Linked DNA regions of Homo sapiens: region 2 is linked to region 1. A link means that fine-mapping ties the variant in region 1 to the plasma level of a protein whose gene starts in the linked region. Region 1 holds a variant in brackets. A gene starts in the other region. All regions are shown on their reverse strands.

Region 1 (8,000 bases):
ATTCACTGCATATACATACATATATATACTATATAAAATGCTTGTAAGTATAGTGTCTGCTCTGAGGGGGTTTGGAGCCAGACTTCTAAAGTTCAAATCCCACCTTTGTCATCTTCTATGCTGTGGATAAGCTATTTAGCTTTTTTGCCTCTGTTTTATCATTTGTAAAATGAGATGCCAGTACCTACCTCCTTAGGTTATTATAAGGAAAATAGGTCCATGTAAAGCTCTTGGAACAGTGCTTAGTATACAAAGCGTTCTTATATGTGAGATATTTTTAACCATCATTTAAATTATTCCTTTAACAAGGTAGATTTAGAAATCTCAGGTATCTAGTCCTCATACCAACAGAGGAAGCAAAGGCTTAGATAATGCAGCATTCATTAAAATTGCCTTTAGAATTTGTTTTTGTTTTTAATTTGATATGCATTTAGGATTTCTCTTCAAAATATATAATGAAGTATATTCAAGACCAAACACAGAAGAAGCCATGAAGTTTTTCCACCTTGATCATAATTCATTCCCTTCTGCAATTCATCACACACTGAGAATAAACACAATAGTCCTCTGCTATCTCTCAGGCTGAACAAGGCAGAGGGGCACCTTCCCAAGCCATAAATGCCTTCCTTGTTGTATAAAATGTATAAGTAGACAGAGAATGTGCACAGCATCAAAGTTAAGTAGCTTACTCGACAAGAAATTGGGTTTGCCCTGGATAAACCGCGATGCTAAAAACCGAAACAGGGATTATAAGAGAGACTGGCCGATTCTGTTTTATATTTACTACTAATATTTATGTTCCAATAAGCCAAAAGTCACTTTCCACCTCAAAGAGAGCTGAATACCCAGTGGGCCCGAGATGAATTTATTTGAACCATGGAGGACATTCACCACCTCCGCGTCCACACCTGAGTTTAGCATTTGCATGGCTGACTCACTGCCTGTGGCTTCCACTTCACTTCCCTCAGACTGCTCCTCAAAACATCTCTGTTCCTCATTCTATAGCAGGCTATAATTTCCCTCTACTCTGACAAACACCTTCACATTCAGTGATGGGGAAGGCATTTCAGTTGTCAATCTAAAGACCAAGCCCTGCTGAGGAAAATGAATGTCAGGATCACGTTGTTAATAAATTATCCCTCTTCTTCAGAAATGCAGACTTCCTGCCTGTCTACCTTCCAACGAAGTCAGAAACGCTCTTTCTTATTATTTTCTCTGCTCTGTAACTTTCTAAATTTGACCCTTTCAAAAATATACATGCAAGTCTCCACATTATAATTATGAAAGAATTAGGAACATATTCTCTAAGGTATAGAGGGAGAAAAAAAATTATCTGTATATGCCTGTCTTACATTCTCCTTTCTGGCCAAAGGTTAAATTGTAATACATGTTATTCACCACGTTGAATTTAGAATTGAAAAATAAGTGAAACACATGGGGAGAGTAAAATGTAATGGAAAAATAAAAGGCTGTGAAATCTGACAGACCAGATCTAAGCTCTACTACTTTTTAATTTGGTGACTTTGAGTATGTCAGCTGAAGTCCTCTTAAGCCTCAGTTTCTACATATATAAAATAGTAAAATATTGCTTACTTTCCAAAGCTGCTGTGAGAATTAAACCTATGCTAATCACCTAAAATAGTGTAGATGCCACAGTAGGTATTCAAAAACTGGTAGCTACAATTATTTTTCAGATCTGTTTTACTTCTCATTTATATTACTCAACAACTCTTAAATGCAACTAACTTATTCTATGGTAAATTGGAAGACGGTATGTTTGCTATTTATAATCAAAGCTGCTTTCTGGAGAAGGTTAATTTGGGTAAGCAAAAGGCCCTTTTGTCTGAACATTTCAGTAGTTTGGGTTTACAAATTTAGAAGTAATCAATATTAAAAGCTGAATTAGACATTTTTGGAGTTTGGGGACAAAGGGAGGAAAAGGAGTGAGAGAGGGGATCTTGAAAGACGAGAGCAAGAAAGAAGCTAACACCCGATGAGACCAGAAATTTCGTTGTGTTGAGGCTGTGGAAGTGTTTTAAGATAGAAGATGCCAACCGCTATTGCTTCAACATGTTTGCATTACTGCAACAGAAAATCTCTCCTCTATCTTCCTTCTAAATCTTCCGTAAAGTTTCCTAAAGCCATAACTGTTTTGCATGAGTACGTATTGTGTTGATCAAAACCTACTCACGGGTGAGTTTAGGTGTGTATGACAGAAATAGCTTTTGAGAAACAGAAGCCTGGAGACAGAGGAGATCTGAGATCATAAGCAAAATTAAAAAGTTAAGCAATACCAACGTTGGCAAGCATGTGAAGTGGAGGCCACTCATCCCCACTGCTGGGGTATGAAATGATCCAGCCATTTTGGATACTTTACCTAGTAAAATTTAGTACATACATATCCTATGAGGTAGCAATTTGAGTTCCAGGTGTATGCCCTGGAGAAGCTCTAGTTCATTTGTATGGGACTCAGGCACAAGAATGTTCAAGGCATTTTCATAAGAAAAAATTGGAAACAGCAATAAAAATGCCACCTGCAACAGCATGAGTAAATCTCAAATCCATAACTTTTAGTGAAAAAAGTAACAGAAGAATAGATATGATTCTATTTATACAAATGGAAAAAATAGGCAAAACTAAATCACAAATTTATATTTAGGGACAAAAACATATAAAGAATAAGCATTTATAGAAAAAACAAGGATAATTAATACAAAATATAAAATAGTAGTTGCCTGAGGAGTGAGAGGGATGTGATCAGAGAGGGGCATAGAGGAGCCTTTAAGTCACTGGCAATATTCTATTTCTTAAGGCAGATGGTGGGCATATAAGGGCAGTTTTCTTCAAATTACACATATATGTTATCCACACCCTTTTGTATATATGAAATAGTTCACAATTTTAAAATAAAAGCATTTTAAGTGAGCTGACACTGTAGCAGTGTCAGGAGACTATCATTACCAGTCATGGACAGGGTCTTCAGTTTAATGCCTACACCAGCACAGACAATAAGGTCTTGGGCCTATATAGAACATGAAGTTACAAATGAGGTATAAGGATATGTCAGCTTGAATGACACATGTTAAAAGTATCATTGCCCTGTACCCCAAAGCAAAAACACTGTGTATACTTTTTAAGTCAACATAAAACATTTATAAAAATTGACCACACATTAGGCCATAAGTAAATTCTCAACAAATACGTAAAAGTCAATATCATATAAATAATGCTCTCTGACAATTCCAGATTGGAAATCAATAACGTCGTAAGTACCTGGAATGTATAGGACAGGACATTTCCACTCAGCCTGTAGAAATCTTTTCCATCCCCACTAAACACCTTTCTACATTGACCACCAAAACTTTTGGTATTGATGACTCTGTTCCTAAACTGGCCAGTGAGTTCATTGTAACTGTTAAAAGGAGGAGGAGGAGAAGGAGGAAATAAAAAGCCGTTAAAAACCAGAAATAGCACTTGGTGGGGAAAAAAGTTTATTACAGAACTCTACAAATTCTTAAAATGCATTACACTTAAACACTTCTTTGAGAGAGTTCAAATGAAGAGCACAGCATCCTAATACACACCATACATTATCCAGCTTCCCCTGCTTGGTATAATCACTAAAACTAATGGCTCAGAAAATCCAACATTCTTTCCATCTAAGAACATATTTGGGAAACACATGGCTCTTTCGTATCTATGGCAACAGCTGGTTTTGAATTGAATCTGTAGATAAAACCAATACAATTAAGGTTACTCTTGAGGAGAGAGAGCTCTCTATAATAAATTTTAACTAATTGCCTCTTAGCATACTGAATGGTGTACTCTTTCAAATAATTTTACCCTATTTCTCTGTTAATAAATTTTAAAATATTTCAGAAAAATTACTTCTTTCACTCTAAAATAGGTTATTTTTAGGTCTTGAAACCTTAACAAGTCATATGACCCTTAAAAATTCTTCAGAATTCTCTTTGATAACGTAAACACAGTATTTTCCAACCTTCACTTGGAAACAGGTTCTTGGCTAGTTTAGACAATTGCTGTTCAGCCTGGATATTACAACACACTTGCTTCTGTCTCTCTTCTCATCCTGTTCTCATTCTATTGTCTCTTCATTCTCTTGAATAGCCCCACATTATTGAATTAGTATTTTTTCTCTCTCTCTCCCTCCCTTCCAACCCCCATGAAGTGACCAACTGTCCAGGTTTCCCTGGGCCTGAGGGGTTTCTTGGAATTAGAATTTCAGCGCTAAAACTAGGACCATCCCAGGACAAGGGGTCACTCTGCATCTACCACATGTATCTACAGGTATACATGTGTGAACAAAAATACTGTCTCAGGATGTGGCAAAGAGCTCTGAGCCAATGAATAATCTTGCCTATTAGAAGACTTGTTCGTAGACTTACCAAACTATAAAATAAAACAAAATTTAAAACTACAATTCACTGATGTACTCAGGAGGCTGCCCAGCACCTTACCCATTTCCAGTAAGTTCTATGTTAGGAGGAGGTTTATCGATATCAC[A/G]GGAAGGTCTCCTTTCTGAGTCCTCACATCTGTCTTCATCAGCACTGTCTTCATCACAGTCAGAATCCCCATTGCAAACCAATGATTTGCTGATGCACTGACCTGAACACCAGAGAAATCCACGTGCAAATGTAAAAGAGGGAAGAGGAGAAACACTACCCAGGACCAAAAAGGGTTTTCCTGCTACCTGTAACACTGCACTGATACGCCAATGTAAATGGGAGATAAATCCTCAGAGTGTCTCGGAAAGGACTAGTGAGTATTTTGTCTCCATTTTATGGCACATGGAAATGGTTCTTAACTCAATCAGACACAAAATTGAAAATAGGATCTGAATTCAGAATTTCAGGATCTCACCCATAATCATCAAGCAGCTTGTCTAAATTATATAATTCCGACTACTGAGAAAATAGACTGACTTCCTGCCCTTCAACTTTCACTTTTTTTCTGTCATTCTAAGATGACAAAGTTGAGCTTTTTTTGGTAATTTAAATTTGTAAGCTTTAAGAGCCGGACAATTTTATCAAAAGGTTAAAATTCAACATTTCCGTAGCACAATAGGGGCTAGGATACGAATATGAATAAAAATGGCCTTTGCCAGCTTTTCATATACTTTACAATCTAATAGGAAATACTACAAAGACATAGATCATAATTGTTATGATAGCCATAAATCTAGAGTACCAAGGAAGCACTGGAGAGTACCAGATGATCTAGTTCCTGCCTATCTCCCCAGCATCATCCCCAGCCATTCTCCTACTAGCTTCTTATACCCTAGTCATACCAGACTACCTGCATGAATAAAAGGCCAAGCTTTCTGTCATCTCCAATGATCTTGCGCTTGGTTAGTTCTCTCTGCCTAGATGGGTTTTCTCTACCTATCTCTTACTTGTCCTTCAAGAATCAAATTAAACATTATCTCCTCTTGAAAACCATCGCTGCCTCACAGGCTCTGATGCATGTTCTTCCTCTATGTCCTCATAGGATGTTTGGTGCACAGCTGTCCTTATAGGACATGTACCCTGCTATACTGCCACTCAATCCAATGCAGCAAACATTTGTTGAGAACTTATTATGTACCAGGGACTCCAGAAGTCAACATGTAAGAAATATAATTCATGTCTTCAAGGAGTTCACAGTTCACCAAGAGAGACATTCAGGCCAACGAATCATCCAAATGACAGATGGTACAATATGCATAAGGAAAATATGGAAGTGATTGCTTAATTACTTCTATCAGTTGGGGATTTAGGGCAGGCTTCCTGAAGGAGTGGTTATCTAATTTGGATTTTGAAAGTAAAATAAGCGTTCAACAGGTATCACTGAGGAGCACTTCTAACACAGGGATTATTTATGTACTATTCTGCCCATAAAACTTTAATATTTGTGAGGGAAGAGGCATGTGTTTCACTTGTATATACAACTCTCACCACTATTTGAAACAAGAATCATAAATGTTTACTAAATGTTGTTACATTAATCTGACTGCATAAATGCAACATAGAGTATTGGTCAAATAATATTCTATGCCAAAACTGGTGTTTCAATCACCCCATGCATAGGAGAGAACTGTATTGCTCCTTAATCAGTTCATTAGGGTTGCTTTTCTTGTAGATATAATAATTTAGGCAGTAACATTGTTTTCGTCTAATCTCAATATATGTACAAGACTCACTCTGCATCTTTACTCAAAATACACTGTCAAGAACTTTTTGGGTCTGTCAGTAACTAGAGTTCCATTCAAAGAGACAAAGAGCATTCCTATGTTTATTACCAGATGCATCCCCTTGCATTTGAAAAAATGATAGCTGAGTGGATGATTAACATACCAACAAAAATCCTGATGATATTTGGGGGAATTAACTTTAGGCCAATATAAATTCAGTAAAATTTAACAAATATATAACGAGCAAGTTCACCAAATAACGTTTGAATTTACAATCTGCATGCTGAGCCTATGGAAAACAAGTTACCTGAAAAGCACCTGAAACGCTCTCCACATCCCTCCTCTGTTGGACATCCTCTTGTAGGTTCACAGGACTGTGTTTCAAAAGCATTTCCAACACAAGGCTGGCCTCCATACTGCCCATACACAGCAACTGACCGCCTGCGAGTCTAAACACAAAGCAGGCAGTGGTTTGTTTGTTTATTTGTTTGTTTTCAAAGAAATCTCTAGTTTCCTTTATCTGAGTAATAAAATCTGAGAAAAAGTAATACAATTAGAAAAACAACGTCTGGAAAATTGTTCTGGTGTTCTACAGAAATAAAACCTCAAAATCAATGAATTCACAGACCTATTTGTCCTTGAGTTAAGCAACATGTTGGCTATTATTTATAGAGAGCTCCCAGGCATATATTGACTTTCAGGATTAAATGCAAAAAAAAAAAAATGATGTTAGTGAATCTTTAAGAAAGTAACCTGATTGCAGTGAGCTGAGATCATGCCACTGCACTCCAGCCTGGGCAATAAAGTGAGACACCGTCTCAAAAAAAAAAAAAGAAAAGAAAAAAGAAAGTAACCTGAGTAAAGCTTAGAGGGTAGACACATAAGCAAATACATTAGAGCATAGAATGATTAATATATTTACCAAATCTGTGTTCCAAGAGCTCATTAGAGAAAGTGAAATGACTTTTTCTGGAGAGAGGATAAGGTACTGGGAAAGGGGTTAAGATGAAGCAGAGTTAAGGAAACCTTCAGAAGAGTGATGGTGATTCCTTTCAGCTAAACTGTAAGCCTTCTTCAGGAAGAAAGGCAAGCAAAAACAATTCAGAGAGAAATACATGAATATGGAAGTCAAATTTACAAAACAGAAGCCTAAGTAATCCAAAGGTGAAGCTACATCTACAAAGGAATACGTAAAATACAAACCTCTTGAGGGAAAAGAATATAGGAAAACTGAAGAAATTATCAAACTAAATGAGAAACTTACAACTAATTCATACTAAAGTTTATTTAATCCTCATTCACTATGAAGACATGTATCTAACATTCAAACAAAAAGAAAGATCTACCCCTGGCAATCAGTGAGCATCTTCCAGGCCTCTTCCTCTACTCACCTCTTCTCCATTAACAAACAAAACGGAACCAAAACTGAGCGTCCTGAGGATTTAAACCTTGAGTGAAGATCAACAGGGAAGAGTTGCTGTACATATCAATGTCGAACTTATTCATCCATCCTAAATTGGGTTAGAAGTGGGAATTCCTTGGCATGAGGGGTCACAGTGGCCATAATTTGAACTCTGAGCAGGTACGCACCAGCCTGAGCATGGCTCTGGTGTCTTTCATCATGTTTAAGCAAAGGAGCCACAGAGGAATATGAGTGGGGAATGGAACTCGGTAAGGTTTCTTGATACCATTTTTAGTCCCTTTGTAAGTGATGAAGATACCGCTCATGTGTGACTTAACAGTGTCCTTTTGTGAAGTTCCAGAGCCCAGATGGTGTTGTTTGCATAAGAAAGTGTTTTTCTTCTCCATA
Region 2 (13,167 bases), not on the chromosome of region 1:
TCCACTCTAGGGATGACCTCCCTCCACTCTAGGGATGACCTCCACTCCACTCCAGGCATGACCTCCACTCCAGGGATGACCTCCCTCCACTCTAGGGATGACCTCCACTCCACTCCAGGGATGACTTCCACTCCAGGGATGATCTCCCTCCACTCCAGGGATGTCCTCTGCTCCAGGGATGACCTCCACTCCAGGGATGACTTCCACTCCAGGGATGATCTCCCTCCACTCCAGGGATGTCCTCTGCTCCAGGGATGACCTCCACTCCAGGGATGACCTCTCTCCACTCCAGGCATGACCTCCCACCACTCCAGGCATGACCTCCACTCCAGGCATGGCCTCCCTCCACTCCAGGGATGACCTCCACTCCAGGGCAGGGGATAGGGGGAGGGGGCTTGGGCTATGCCCACAGGAAGCCTGGGCCATGAACGCAGCCCCTGGGCCTCCTGATGTGGAGCGCATGGGCTCAGGTCCACGCTGGGTTTACAAGGGGAGTGATGGCTGGGCAGGTGAAGAAGGGGGCCACACAAATGTCCGAGAAGGCCCTGCCACGTGCCTTGGAATGTTTGCACAACACCTGGGAAAGGGAATCTGTGGTGTCCGGGACATAATTAGAATTTATGCACAACAGAAATGAGCAGAAGATTCCTGCTCACCCCTTACGGTTACCTGTGAGGTAGGGGGCTCCAGTCACACAAGACACAGAGCATCAGCTGATGACCACAGTTCCATGAGGCTTAGTGGGAATTCAATTAGGCAGCAGGCCAGGCTACATAGGAGCCCCAAAGGGCAGGGACCTGTTTATGCCTCATGTGTACTGTGCTGTTTGCAGTGTCTGGGATGTGTTAGGTGCCACAGATGCTCAATGAGTAATTTTTGAATAAATGGATGAGCAAATGGAGCCTCAAACAAATCGACAAAGTAGCCCCCATTCCTTTTCCTGTGTATGCTCCAAGTCAGTGCAGCTTGGGTGGAATCAAAGCCAGAGGGACTGGCCTCAGCCCTGGCCCTGGGAATTCTGGGCCCCTCTCCAGGGAAGGATCCTGGTCCCGAGGACCCAAGGGTCGACAAGGCGAGGCCAGAGCCAGGACCTTTGATTTCTCCTCTGTAGAATGAGTGTGACAACAAACCCACCCCAGGGTGGTGGCCAGGATAACAGTGCCCTGCTGAGTTACAGTCACTAAAGTCTTGCTACTCCAAGCGTGATCTTGGAGCAGGGGAGCTTGTTCAAAACCCACCATCAGATTCCCCAACCCCACACCTACTGAGTCGGAATCTGCCTTTGGGCCAGGCCCAGTGTCCTGTGTGCGCATTCCAGGTGGAGAAGCCGTGCAGGGGAAGTCTGTCTGCTTGTTCTTTTGATAATTTTAACAAGCTCCAAGCAGCGCCCATCCGGCAAGTATCCCCAGATCACCTTGGGGTGCTTAGAAAGCAGGTTCAGGCCAGAGAGAAGAGCAAGGGGAGGTGATATAAAAACCTCTGAGTCAGAAGGGCTGTGACGAGTGTGCCTGGCCCTGGTCCCCAGCCCGTGCTCTTTTCTTCAGCTCAGGCCTCTGCACATTCAATGTGTCCAGTTGCTTTTCAACCCCCCTGCGTCACTGTGAAAGGAACAGAGCCACACCAGGATTTGCTGTTTCTGACGCAGTCCATGCACAACCTGACAACGGAAACCACGGTTCAGGGACAGGAGTTTCTGGGGCAGAAGGGAGCCCTCTCCCTCACCACACCTGTGGTTCAGCTCCAGCCAGAGGTCCATGCCCTAAGGCTCTGTCTGCCCCTTCCTGCCTTCCTCTTTCCAGTGGCCTCACCTGTCTCCTGCCCATGGATTTAAACATCATCTCTAATGAAGGATCGCCCAGGCTTTAGACTCATCCATCCGGCTTCCACTGAAATATGCCCATCGGATATAATACACTCCATTGATAAGAAAGCAGAACAGCCTTATTGCTGATTGATAGGGAGAAAGTTTGAGTGTCCTGGAGAGAAAATCAAACCAGCCACAACATTCTCTGAGGCCAAAGCCTAATCTAAGCAAAGCTCTAACTCTCTTCAATTCTGTGAAGTCTGAGAGAGATGAGGAAGCTGCAGAAGAAAAGTTCGAAGCTGGCAGAGATTGGTTCATGAAGTTTAGGGAAGAAGCCATCTCTGTAAGACAAAAATGCAAGGTGAAGCAGCAAGTGCTGATGGAGAAGCTGCAGCAAGTGACCCAAAAGATCTAACTAAAATCATTGTGGAGGTGGCTACACTCAACAGCTGATTTTCAATGAAGACGAAACAGCCTTGCATTAGAAGAGGCCATCTCCAACTGTCATAGCTACAGAGGAGAAGTCAATGCCTGGCTTCAAAAATTCAAAGGCCAGGCTGTCTCTTTTATTAGAGGCTAATGCAGCCGGTGACTTCAAGTTGAAGCCTGTGCTTATTTACCAATCTGAAAATCTTTAGCCCTTAAGAGCTATGCTAAAGGTATTATTCTTATGCTCTTTAAATGGAACAACAAAGTCTAGATGACAGCAAATCTGTTCTCAGCATGGCTGACTAAATATTTCAAACCCACTGTTGAGACCTACTGCTCAAAAAATGATCTATTTTAGAATATTACTGCTCTTGGTCAATGCACCTAGTCACCCAAGAACTCTGATGGAAATGCTCAATGAGATGATGTTGCTTTCATGCTTACTAACTAACACAACATCCACTCTGCAGCCCATCAGTCAAGGAGTCATTTGGACTTTCAAGTCTTACTATTTAAGAAATACATTTCATGAGGCTATAGCTGCCATAGAGAGTGATTCCTCTGATGAATATGAGCAAAGTCAACTGAAAACCTTCTGGAAAGGATTCACCATTCTAGATGCCACTAGTACATTCATGATTCACGGGAAAAGGAAAAATATAAACACTGACAGGAGTTTGGAAGAAGCTGATTCTTCCAAACCCCACCATGAGGGATGACCCTGAGGGTTCAAGGCTTCAGTAGAGGAAGTCACTGAAGATGTGATGGAATGAGTGAGAGAGGTAGAGTTAGAAGCTGGGCCTGAGGATGGGACTGAATTGCTGTACTCTCATGATAAAACTTGAATGGATCAGGAGTTATTTCTTAAGGATGAGCAAAGAAAATGATTTTTTCAGATGAAATGTACTCCCAGTGAAGATGTTGTGAAATGCTTCACTCCTGGGGAAGATGTTGAGATGACAACAAATAATTTAGACTATTACATAAGCTAAGTTGAAAAAACAGCAGCAGCATTTCAGAGAATGGACATCAATTTTGAAACAAGTTATTGTGTGAGTAAACTGCTATCAAAAACCATGATATGCTACAGAGAAACGTTTTATAAAAGAGTCCATAGATGCAGCAAACTTCATTGTGGTCTTACTCTAAGAACCTGCTACAGACACTCCAACCATCAGCAACCACCACCCTGATCAGTCAGCAGCCACCAGCATTGAGGCAAGACTCTCCACCAGCGAAAAGATGACGGCTCATTGAAGGCTCAAATGACGGTTAGTAGTTTTGAGCAATGAAATGTTTTAGAATTAAGATATGCACATTGTTCTCTTAGACATAATGCTATTGCACCCTTAATAGACAATAGTGGAGTGTAAACATCCCTTTTATATGCACTGGGAAAGCACAAATCCATGCAACTCACTTTATTGCAGAGGTGTGGAACCGAGCCTGCGGTATCTCCAAGGTGTGCCTGTATTAGTTCCCTGGGCCCGCTATGATGAAGTATCACAAACAACACACATGTATTGTCCCATGGTTCTGGAGTCCAGCAGTTTTAAATGCAGTGTGTGGCAGGGCTGCACGTCCTCGGAATGTTCTGGCAGAGGCCCCTTCCCTGTCTCCCACAGTTCTGGTGTTTCTGGCAGCCCTTGGTGACCTTGGCTAGTGGTTGCATCACTGTGGTCTCTGCCTCTTTCATCAAGCGGAGCTCGCCCTGTGTCTCCGTCTTCATATTCTTTATTCTTATTAGAACACTAGCCATTAGATTTGGAGCCTGTCCTACATCAGTTCGACGACATCTACACTTGATTTCATCCACAAGCACTGTGGTATTTCCAGTAAGCTCATTCACAGGTTTGGGGTGGATGTGAACTTGGGGGGACATGATTCCACCTGCTGCGTGTCTGTCCCTCATCCTCCCGCGCACACATGTGATGATGCTTCCCTCAGCATCGCTGGCTTTCCTGACGAAGCCTCTGACTGCTTTTTGTTTCATCCTCACATCTCCCTTCCTCCTCACCCCCAGGGGGCCCAGGGAAGATGCTGACCAGGGGCTGTCCCCTCTACTCCCCCTCTGGTCCCCTGCACAGTGGGCCCATGAAGTCCCGCCTCACCCTGCCAGGAAACTCTCTGTGACTTCCATCGTCTATGAAGCCCATTCCATGCACCTGGCCTGGGTGCCGCACCAGGAGCCTGCTGTTCTTTGCACCATGAACACCTACCCACTCTCTCTGCCTGAAATACTTTCTCAACTGGGGACACCCCATTCACGGGCCATGTTCCAATCGGCTTACCTTCTGTCTCCTCTAAACAGACTTCCCTGATTCTGGGCTGCCAGATTTTACAGAAGGAGGCCCATCTTCTCTGTACCTGCCCATCGGCACGTGGAGTCATGAATACATACCTTCCTGCTCCCCAGTGAGTGTCACGGTCTTCACCGCATGCTCCTGAAGTGCTGAGCAGCTGAGCTGCCTGTCTTCAGCTTTAATCAGGAAACACGCATTCTGTGGACTGAGGAACAGGAGAGGCCGTGGCACGCAGAGTAGGGGATGCCGCCCTCCATGTTCTGGCCCCAGGAAAAACTAACCTGGAGGCAGAAAAACTCAAACTGATGAATGGATAATTATCCACTGAAAATTCTTTAAGGGGAACTGGTTTATACTTTTTTTGAATTTGAGATAACATCAATCTATTTAAACTACTTTTTAATTCAAATGATGACTTTGTCCCTAATAGCTTAAAAAGCAAAATAACGTACCTTAAACATGACACATACACTCTTGGAGGCTTTTGTCTGTGCATGTGTCGGAAACTGATGTTTGCCAAGTGATAAATAAACAGGTGCCATTAGGAAAAACAGAGGTTTTCACAAATGAAAGCTCCTTCCCTCTCCCACACCCGCTCGCATATCCTCCCTGAAGACAGAGGCCAGAAAGTGAGGCTTGCTCTTCATGGTGCCTGCCGACCTCTGCAGCGCTGGACCCCTGTGGGGGAATGCCAGGAGGCTTAAGAGACACTCCCCTGCCACAGACACAGTAAGGGTTGTGTCCACAGAAATTCGCTTTAATGTTCTCTAACTAGGACTTGACGGATCCATGGCCAGGCTGACAACTCCACACAAACGTGAAGGAACCTGACAGGCAGGTGCCGACATGAAGCAGGTGCAGGTGGCTCCGGGCAAAGCAGCAGCTCCCCAGTCACCATCCACCCCACCTGGGGAAGTAGCACCTCCCCCATCCAAGGTCCACCCCAACCCAGGAGAAGCAGCAGCTCCCCTGTCTGCCATTAACCCTGACCTGGGAGAAACAACACATCCCCAGCCACCTTGCACACTGACCTGGGAGAAACAGCCTCTCCACCATCCACCTTTCACACTGGCCTGGGAGAAGTGGCACCTCCCCCATCCACTGTCCAGCCCAACTTGGGAGAAGCAGCCCCTCCCCCATGTACCATCAACCCCCACCTTAGAGCAGCAGCTTCCCCTTTCCACTGTATACCCTGACCTGGGAGAAGCAGCCCCTCCGCATCCATCGTCCACCCTGACCTCTGAGAAGCGGTGCCCCCCACCCCCATGCAGAGTGCACCCTGATTGCGGGTGATGCCTGAGGTGTGGGAGGGGCGGGGGTTAGCTGCTGCCACTGCTTCTCGTTCTCTCGAGTCCTTGCTCTGTGCCTGCACGTCAGGTTGTTCCTGTGATGGGGCCACGTGCAAGTGTGCACCAAGGGGACTTGGCCGGGTACTGTACGTCCACTGGGACACACCCTTCTACGGGTATTGCACGTCCACTGGGAGACGTCCTTCTAGGGGATCCTCACTGAGCAAATGAAGCAGAATTTGGGTAAAAATGAATTTTCCCAAAGCTGCAGTACAGCTTTTCAGTCCTCTAACTGCCTGAGATAAATGTTGGCAACTTCCTTTTATATTAAATTTCATTTTTGTCACATAATACACTTGATTATTGACCATAATAACTTTATTAATATACAGACTGATTATTGATACTCACCGATGTATTTCATGTGTTATTGAGAGTCACTCATTTGGTTTAGAAAGACCAATATCACATTGAGTAATTCGAAACATATTTAAGGCATAGAACTTGCATTTTTTTCTCTTAAGCAAAATGAGGAGTTCTAGCCAATCTTGCTAGTGTTATTTATAGCATCTTATTTCCTGAGAGAAGACAGGAAAAGTGAGTCCCTGCCTTCCCTCTCTCCGTCTGGCTCCTCCCAGGCCTGTCTGGCAGGGGCCGGGGTGCAGGAGGAGGAGACGGCATCCAGTACAGAGGGGCTGGACTTGGACCCCTGCAGCAGGTACTCGGAGCAAATGGTGAGATCAGAAGGGGGATGATGTCATTCCTTCGAAGGAATGAATTAAACGTGCTTCCTCGTGTGTCTGATTGACAGCCCTGCACAGGAGAAGCGGCATATAAAGCCGCGCTGCCCGGGAGCCGCTCGGCCACGTCCACCGGAGCATCCTGCACTGCAGGGCCGGTCTCTCGCTCCAGCAGAGCCTGCGCCTTTCTGACTCGGTCCGGAACACTGAAACCAGTCATCACTGCATCTTTTTGGCAAACCAGGTACGATTATTTCTTAAACTCAATCAATTATTTAATGGTGCTCTAATTTTAAGAAATTAGAGTTCTCGAACTCTAAGAAGCGGAGAAGAAAAAGGAGCAATTTCGATTCTTAACTTAAGGTGGGTGGTGTATCTATTAACACTAAATGGCAAGTGTTTCTTCACGTGGTGTTTCTACTGCCCGCTTGAAGAGCAAGGCACGTGGCCGCTCCTCAGCTTTTCCTCCGTGGCTGTGCTTTCACCAGCCGGGCACCCCTTCCTCTCTGAGGGTTGTGGCTGCTGCTATTTCAATGTATATACCTGCCTGGGAACCCGGGTAAACGCTTTATGTTTTCAGTTTCCGAAGAAGAAGATTCCACATGAGAGTTTGTTATTGAGGAGAGAATTAGAAACAACTCCCGGAATATCTGAAAAGTAACTGGAGATTAGAGAGAGACTCTGATTGTTAACATCATTATTAGTAGATTAGAGAGAGACTCTGATCGTTAACATTATTAGTAGATTAAAGAGAGACTCTGATTGTTAACATTATTAGTAGATTAAAGAGAGACTCTGATTGTTAACATTATTAGCAGCTGAAAAGTGGTTTTGAACATAACTAGAGAGTATTTGTGGTAAGTCTATGGAAAATCCTGTGACTGCCGGGACACACAGCGACTTTTAACAGTCTTGGGGCAGTTTGCATATGAAAAGCGAGCTGGCAGGTTGCCTGGCTACCACTTAAGGAAGGTGGGTTTGGCTGCCCAGGACTGGGAGCTGAGCACCCAGGAGTCTGGTGTTTAATCAGACTGCTGTTGGTGGTGGACGGCCGGTAAACAATTAGCTCTCTGCAAAGCTATCTTTTACTTTGATTGTTCATACGAAAAGAGTTTTAAAAGACCTTTGCAAATTCAAACTACATTCTGCTGCAGACAGGCACCGAAATCTTTCTTTTGGAAAAACACAAGCATAAACGTGGATGTGTGGCGTGCAGAGGCTGGGGCAGGGGTGAGCGGCACTGGCTCATCCGTGGCTCCATCCATGCATGCCCGGTGTCCCTGGATGGGCTGAGGCCAGGTAGCCTGGCTGCTCATCCTTCCTGTGGGATGGAGCCTCACTGTCCTTTGACAATCCGCAGCAGGGGATGCTTTGTTAGCCTCCTGCTCTTGTAAGAATCTACCTCAAGGCAGAGACAGTAGGATCTGGTTTCGTCAAAGGAGTTTGATTTAGTTTTTCTAACCTGTCCTTATGAAGCTGGGCATCCAGAACTTTCGCATTTACCATCCTGTTCTTGGCTGGCCTCTGCAGGGCCAGCCCCACACAGCTGTCCTTAGGGGACTGCGACGTACCCGGCAGTGTGGGCTGATGAGGTGGGGAGGTGGGAAGAGCCTGCCAAGGCTGTACCTGAGCTGTGTATTCTAACACCGTTCTGTGGTGCTTACTGCATGCAGGTACTGTTCTAAGCTCATGGCCAAGTGTTCGCTCCTGTCATTAAACCCTCTTAAGAGCTCCATAGAAAGGCCCTATCAGCACCACCATTATTACTGCAGCTGCCTCGGGCAGTTAGAGTAGAAAGCGCCCCAGACCCAGAGGCACATTCTGCTCCGGTAACCCATGCCTGTGGCTCGCTGGGCTAAGTCAGCCCCTGGTGAAGTTTCATTTGCCGAATTCATCTCTCATGACAACCCGATGAGGTGGGCATTTTACATGACGCTACGTTTCATTCTACGGATGAGGAAACTGAGACAGAGAAGTTAAGTAAGTTTCCCTAGGTTGCACAGCTGGTGCTCAGCATTGCTCAGCCTGGTGCTGACTCCGGCCGCAGGCCGTGCTGCTTCCGGAGCCAGGACAGATGAAACAATCACCAAGGACCCCTGGGGCGGCACTGGGGGGAGCAGATGGTTTGGGGGGGGGGTCCCAGCAGCAGATGGGTGGGGGGTCTGCAGGTGCTGCCAAGCATTTCTCTTCTTCTGAGGAATGTTTCTCTATTCCTGGAAGGTGAGGATTTCCAGGTTACCAAATGTTGTTTCTGGAGAGGGAGAGTCCTTGGATTAACAATGAGAAGTTAACGGCCTTTGATATTCTAAATATGGGAAGAATTGGGGTCTCAGTCTTCCCTTCAACCTAGAGCAGGGTGTGACCAATTGCTGGAAGGGACCTGGGGAGCCCTGGGACCCTCAGGCTCATGCTCGCCCGGAAGAGGAGAAGCTGAGATCCACAGGGTTAATCGCCCAGCCGGGCTTTGGACCACATCTCCTGACTTCGGGGCCAGCCTCCACTGAGCTGTGCCAACTTAAAATCCCCAAGAATGGAAAAACAGGCCTGCAGGAAAATAAAGAGGCAGGGTCAAAATGATGGCTAAGTCAAGTGTTCTGTTGTTTTGTAAGTATAATTCACCAAATTAAGTTTATTTGTAACTTTTTTTTACAGTTGATATTCATTCTATTTAATTAGGTTATGCATAACTGTTTTTTGCTGGATATTTACACAAAATGCGTTCACAGATTATTTTTGTCAGGCTGGATATTTTTCTAAATTCAAACTTTCTACATCTAAGTCCTGTCTACGAGTCGTATGAACAGAATTACTCCAGGCAAGCGCTGAACTTGCCCATCTTCCATTTGCTCATCTGTAAAATGAGGACAATTAGAGCAGCACATACCTCCCAGGCTATTATGAAGATGAAATAATAGGAATATTTAGAACGTGATGTGCAGTGCTTGCCGGCAAATGCTAGCTCAACAAATCTTATAGTTAGAAGAATCCTGCTTGAAGAGTAAATTTCCTCCTTCGCTCTCAGTTTGCCACAAATCCAGTTGGTGCTGAGTTTTATATGCAAACTGTTATTCAATGGTCATGTGAGTCACTGGGCCAGTCTCGCTCACAGGCAGGGTTGCAGCTGTGGACTCATCACTAACAAGGGTTTCCTGTATTCCCAGGAGCTCAGCTGCAGGAGGCAGGATGGTCTGGAGGCTGGTCCTGCTGGCTCTGTGGGTGTGGCCCAGCACGCAAGGTGAGTGTCCTCAGAGCCTGTGGTCTCTCTCTGGCTTGTGAGATATGGCTTAGCTGCAAGGGGAGAGATGACAAAATAAAGTGTGTGGTTGGACAATCTTACCCGTGAGGACCTTCTAGCTCCTTTATAAATCAAATAGTAACTTACTTCTGAGCCAATATGACATGAGATAATTTATCTTTGGAAAATTCAGGTGTTAGAGAAAAATGCAATTCCACCTAGAGTTGCACAGTTTATCCTTTTTTCTATAGAGGATGTTCACAACACTGCAAGTATTTGGTGTTTGTTGAATTCTTTTTGCTCCACTTTCTTCCTCCTTTAAATATTTTCCCATGTGTTTACTTTTCTACAGTATGATTTTTAATGACCACATAATATTTCATCACAGATAAAGCCTGATCTTTTTCAATCAATTCCCACTTAGATTGGTTTATTTTCATTAGCATAAATGATGACACAAAAAATATTGACGTGGATAAATCTTAAGTAGCATTTGTGATTATATCCTTTGGATAGGTTACAAAATTAGAATTGCTGAATCAAAGCTTTTAATTCTTGCCAAGTAACTCTATGGAAAGTGGTCCATTGCCCACTTCTGTCAGCAACCCTGTGTATTATCCTGTTCTAATTTGCTAAATATTAGATGAAAAGGAAGGCTTTGGCTAAACTTTCTGTTCAGTGTATTACTTTTTTTTTTTTTTCTGGGACGGAGTCCTGCTCTGTCACCCAGGCTGGAGTGCAGTGGCGTGATCTGGGCTCACTGCAAGCTCTGCCTCCCGGGTTCACGCCATTCTCCTGCCTCAGCCTCCCGAGTAGCTGGGACTACAAGCGCCCACAACCATGCCTGGCTAATTTTTTGTATTTTTAGTAGAGACGGGGTTTCACCACGTTAGCCATGATGGTCTCCGTCTCCTGACCTCATGATCCACCCACCTCGGCCTCCCAAAGTGCTGGGATTACAGGTGTGAGCCACCGCGCCTGGCTTTGAATTATTTAAACTATTATGATTTTCGTGAGATCTGATCACTTTTCTTGCCAATAGCTTAGGTGGTGACTTAAAACCATTTGTTTCTGTACTTGATACTGACCACTCTTTCAGATCCTTACCCACAGGGTGCATTAAGAGTTGGAGAATACATTTTTACAAAATAACAACCTGCTGACATAACTGGTTTTAGGCAGTTGATCTCAACAAGAAAGCAACATACGATTTAGCCGCTTTCTGACACTCTATCAATAGCAAGGCTAAAGATCCATGTCTTTCCCAGTTTATTCATTTATTTGGTTTTTTCCTGAGCAATCAACTGGTAGACAGGATGGCTGCTTTTCAGCCTCAGATCTGAGATGGAAGAGCCAGACAGAGTGACCTGGGACATGTGCCAGGATGTCAAGCGAGGCCGGGATTCCCTCACCAAGAAGGTCGGGCTATGCAAAGGGCCAGCTGAACGGACAGGGCGCTGCCTGTCTCCACCGATTTACCTTCTGGCACACGCTCCTCGACCAGCCAGGGGCAGAAACTGACCCCACAGACCCGCAGCTGCGTTGGGCCCACACTCTGAGTAGCGGCACTGGCACGGAGGATAGTGGCTTTTCATCAGAGGTGGCTCCAGGATTCCCATAAAAAAGGGAGAGAAGCTGCGGGATATTGGGAGGCCTCGTTAATTTCCTTACACGCGAGGTTCTGGTTTGTCACCCTGGGTCAGGCCAACCTCGCCCTCTTCCCCTACGTCACCCTTCTCCACTGCGGTTCCCTTTGCAGCTGGTCACCAGGACAAAGACACGACCTTCGACCTTTTCAGTATCAGCAACATCAACCGCAAGACCATTGGCGCCAAGCAGTTCCGCGGGCCCGACCCCGGCGTGCCGGCTTACCGCTTCGTGCGCTTTGACTACATCCCACCGGTGAACGCAGATGACCTCAGCAAGATCACCAAGATCATGCGGCAGAAGGAGGGCTTCTTCCTCACGGCCCAGCTCAAGCAGGACGGCAAGTCCAGGGGCACGCTGTTGGCTCTGGAGGGCCCCGGTCTCTCCCAGAGGCAGTTCGAGATCGTCTCCAACGGCCCCGCGGACACGCTGGATCTCACCTACTGGATTGACGGCACCCGGCATGTGGTCTCCCTGGAGGACGTCGGCCTGGCTGACTCGCAGTGGAAGAACGTCACCGTGCAGGTGGCTGGCGAGACCTACAGCTTGCACGTGGGCTGCGACCTCATAGACAGCTTCGCTCTGGACGAGCCCTTCTACGAGCACCTGCAGGCGGAAAAGAGCCGGATGTACGTGGCCAAAGGCTCTGCCAGAGAGAGTCACTTCAGGGTACGCTCTGCAGGGAGGTGGCCGCCGTGAGGGAGGAAAGAGCTTAGCTGGGAACTGATCTGCTAATGCGTCTGGTGATGCGATGCTTGAGCAGGCAGAGCCTGGCCTTAGAGAAGCACACTGCACATCCCGGCATGTGCTCACACACATGCGTGCACACACCACATGCACATGCACACACTGCCCACCACACGCAGCCACAGGCATGTGCACACATGCACACACACCACACACACACACAAACACACATGCTCACAAACACATGAACACACATCCAAAGACATATACACAAACACTGCATATGCACTCACACTCGCATATGTATATACATCACACATGTACACACACCACGCAACACACACACACAGACACGCACACACACACCTCACCACATACACATGCATGTGAACACACCCTCACATATGCATGCCCATGTGCACACAAACACCATACATGGGCACGCACATGCAGACGCACATAAACACCATTCATACACTCATGTGCACACATGCACACCACACAGACATACATGTGAACACACACATGCACACACGTGCACACACCCTACGTGGGCACCCATGCACATACACAAATAAACACCATGCATGCACTCACATTCACAGACGTGTGCACATACCACACATGCACACACACCACACACATACATGTGAACACACTCATGCATGCACATGTGCACACAACCATATGTAAGCACTTATACATGTGTGCACAAAACAGGTGTGCACACACCACCCACAGCCATGCAATGCACGCACACCACACACATGTGAACACACACATACACACGTGCACAAAAGTACCATACACAGTCACACACATCACATTTACATACCTACACAAACACCATACATACACTCACACATCCCCCACACATAAACACATGAACATCATATAGATGCATACACAGAACCACACATGTACACACACATACACATGCACAAATGCACACATACTCATACACACGTATACATACACACAAACACCTCATGCAAACTCATGCATGCACATACATCCATCACACATGTGTATA

Direction of the effects. Positions count from the first base shown, and alleles are read on the strand shown. Strength reflects both the effect of a copy and how common the allele is.
For the plasma level of the protein whose gene starts at base 6,687 in region 2, allele A in region 1 goes with a higher level than allele G (weak association).

What was found. PIP is the posterior inclusion probability: the model's chance that the variant is causal. The UK Biobank Pharma Proteomics Project read protein levels with antibody pairs (Olink). The fine-mapping took linkage between variants from a reference panel, not from the people measured, so its PIPs are less certain.
Region 2: THBS2 starts here. The variant in region 1 is fine-mapped to the plasma level of the THBS2 protein (UK Biobank, PIP 0.98).

The regions. Positions count from the first base shown.
Region 1 is chr5:40,932,964-40,940,963 of GRCh38, reverse strand. C7 (complement C7) reads right to left here. Exons shown (of 18, transcript NM_000587.4): 4 at 6,498-6,639; 5 at 4,479-4,626; 6 at 3,274-3,412. Among named protein-coding and RNA genes, the nearest start is that of C7, 27 kb to the right of the region's middle. The variant A/G (reference allele first, on the strand shown) is at 4,525.
Region 2 is chr6:169,247,366-169,260,532 of GRCh38, reverse strand. It overlaps THBS2 (thrombospondin 2), which reads left to right and starts at 6,687. Exons shown (of 22, transcript NM_003247.5): 1 at 6,687-6,809; 2 at 9,727-9,800; 3 at 11,560-12,116. The coding sequence starts at 9,749. RefSeq lists enhancers at 7,101-7,612, 7,613-8,125, 8,638-9,151.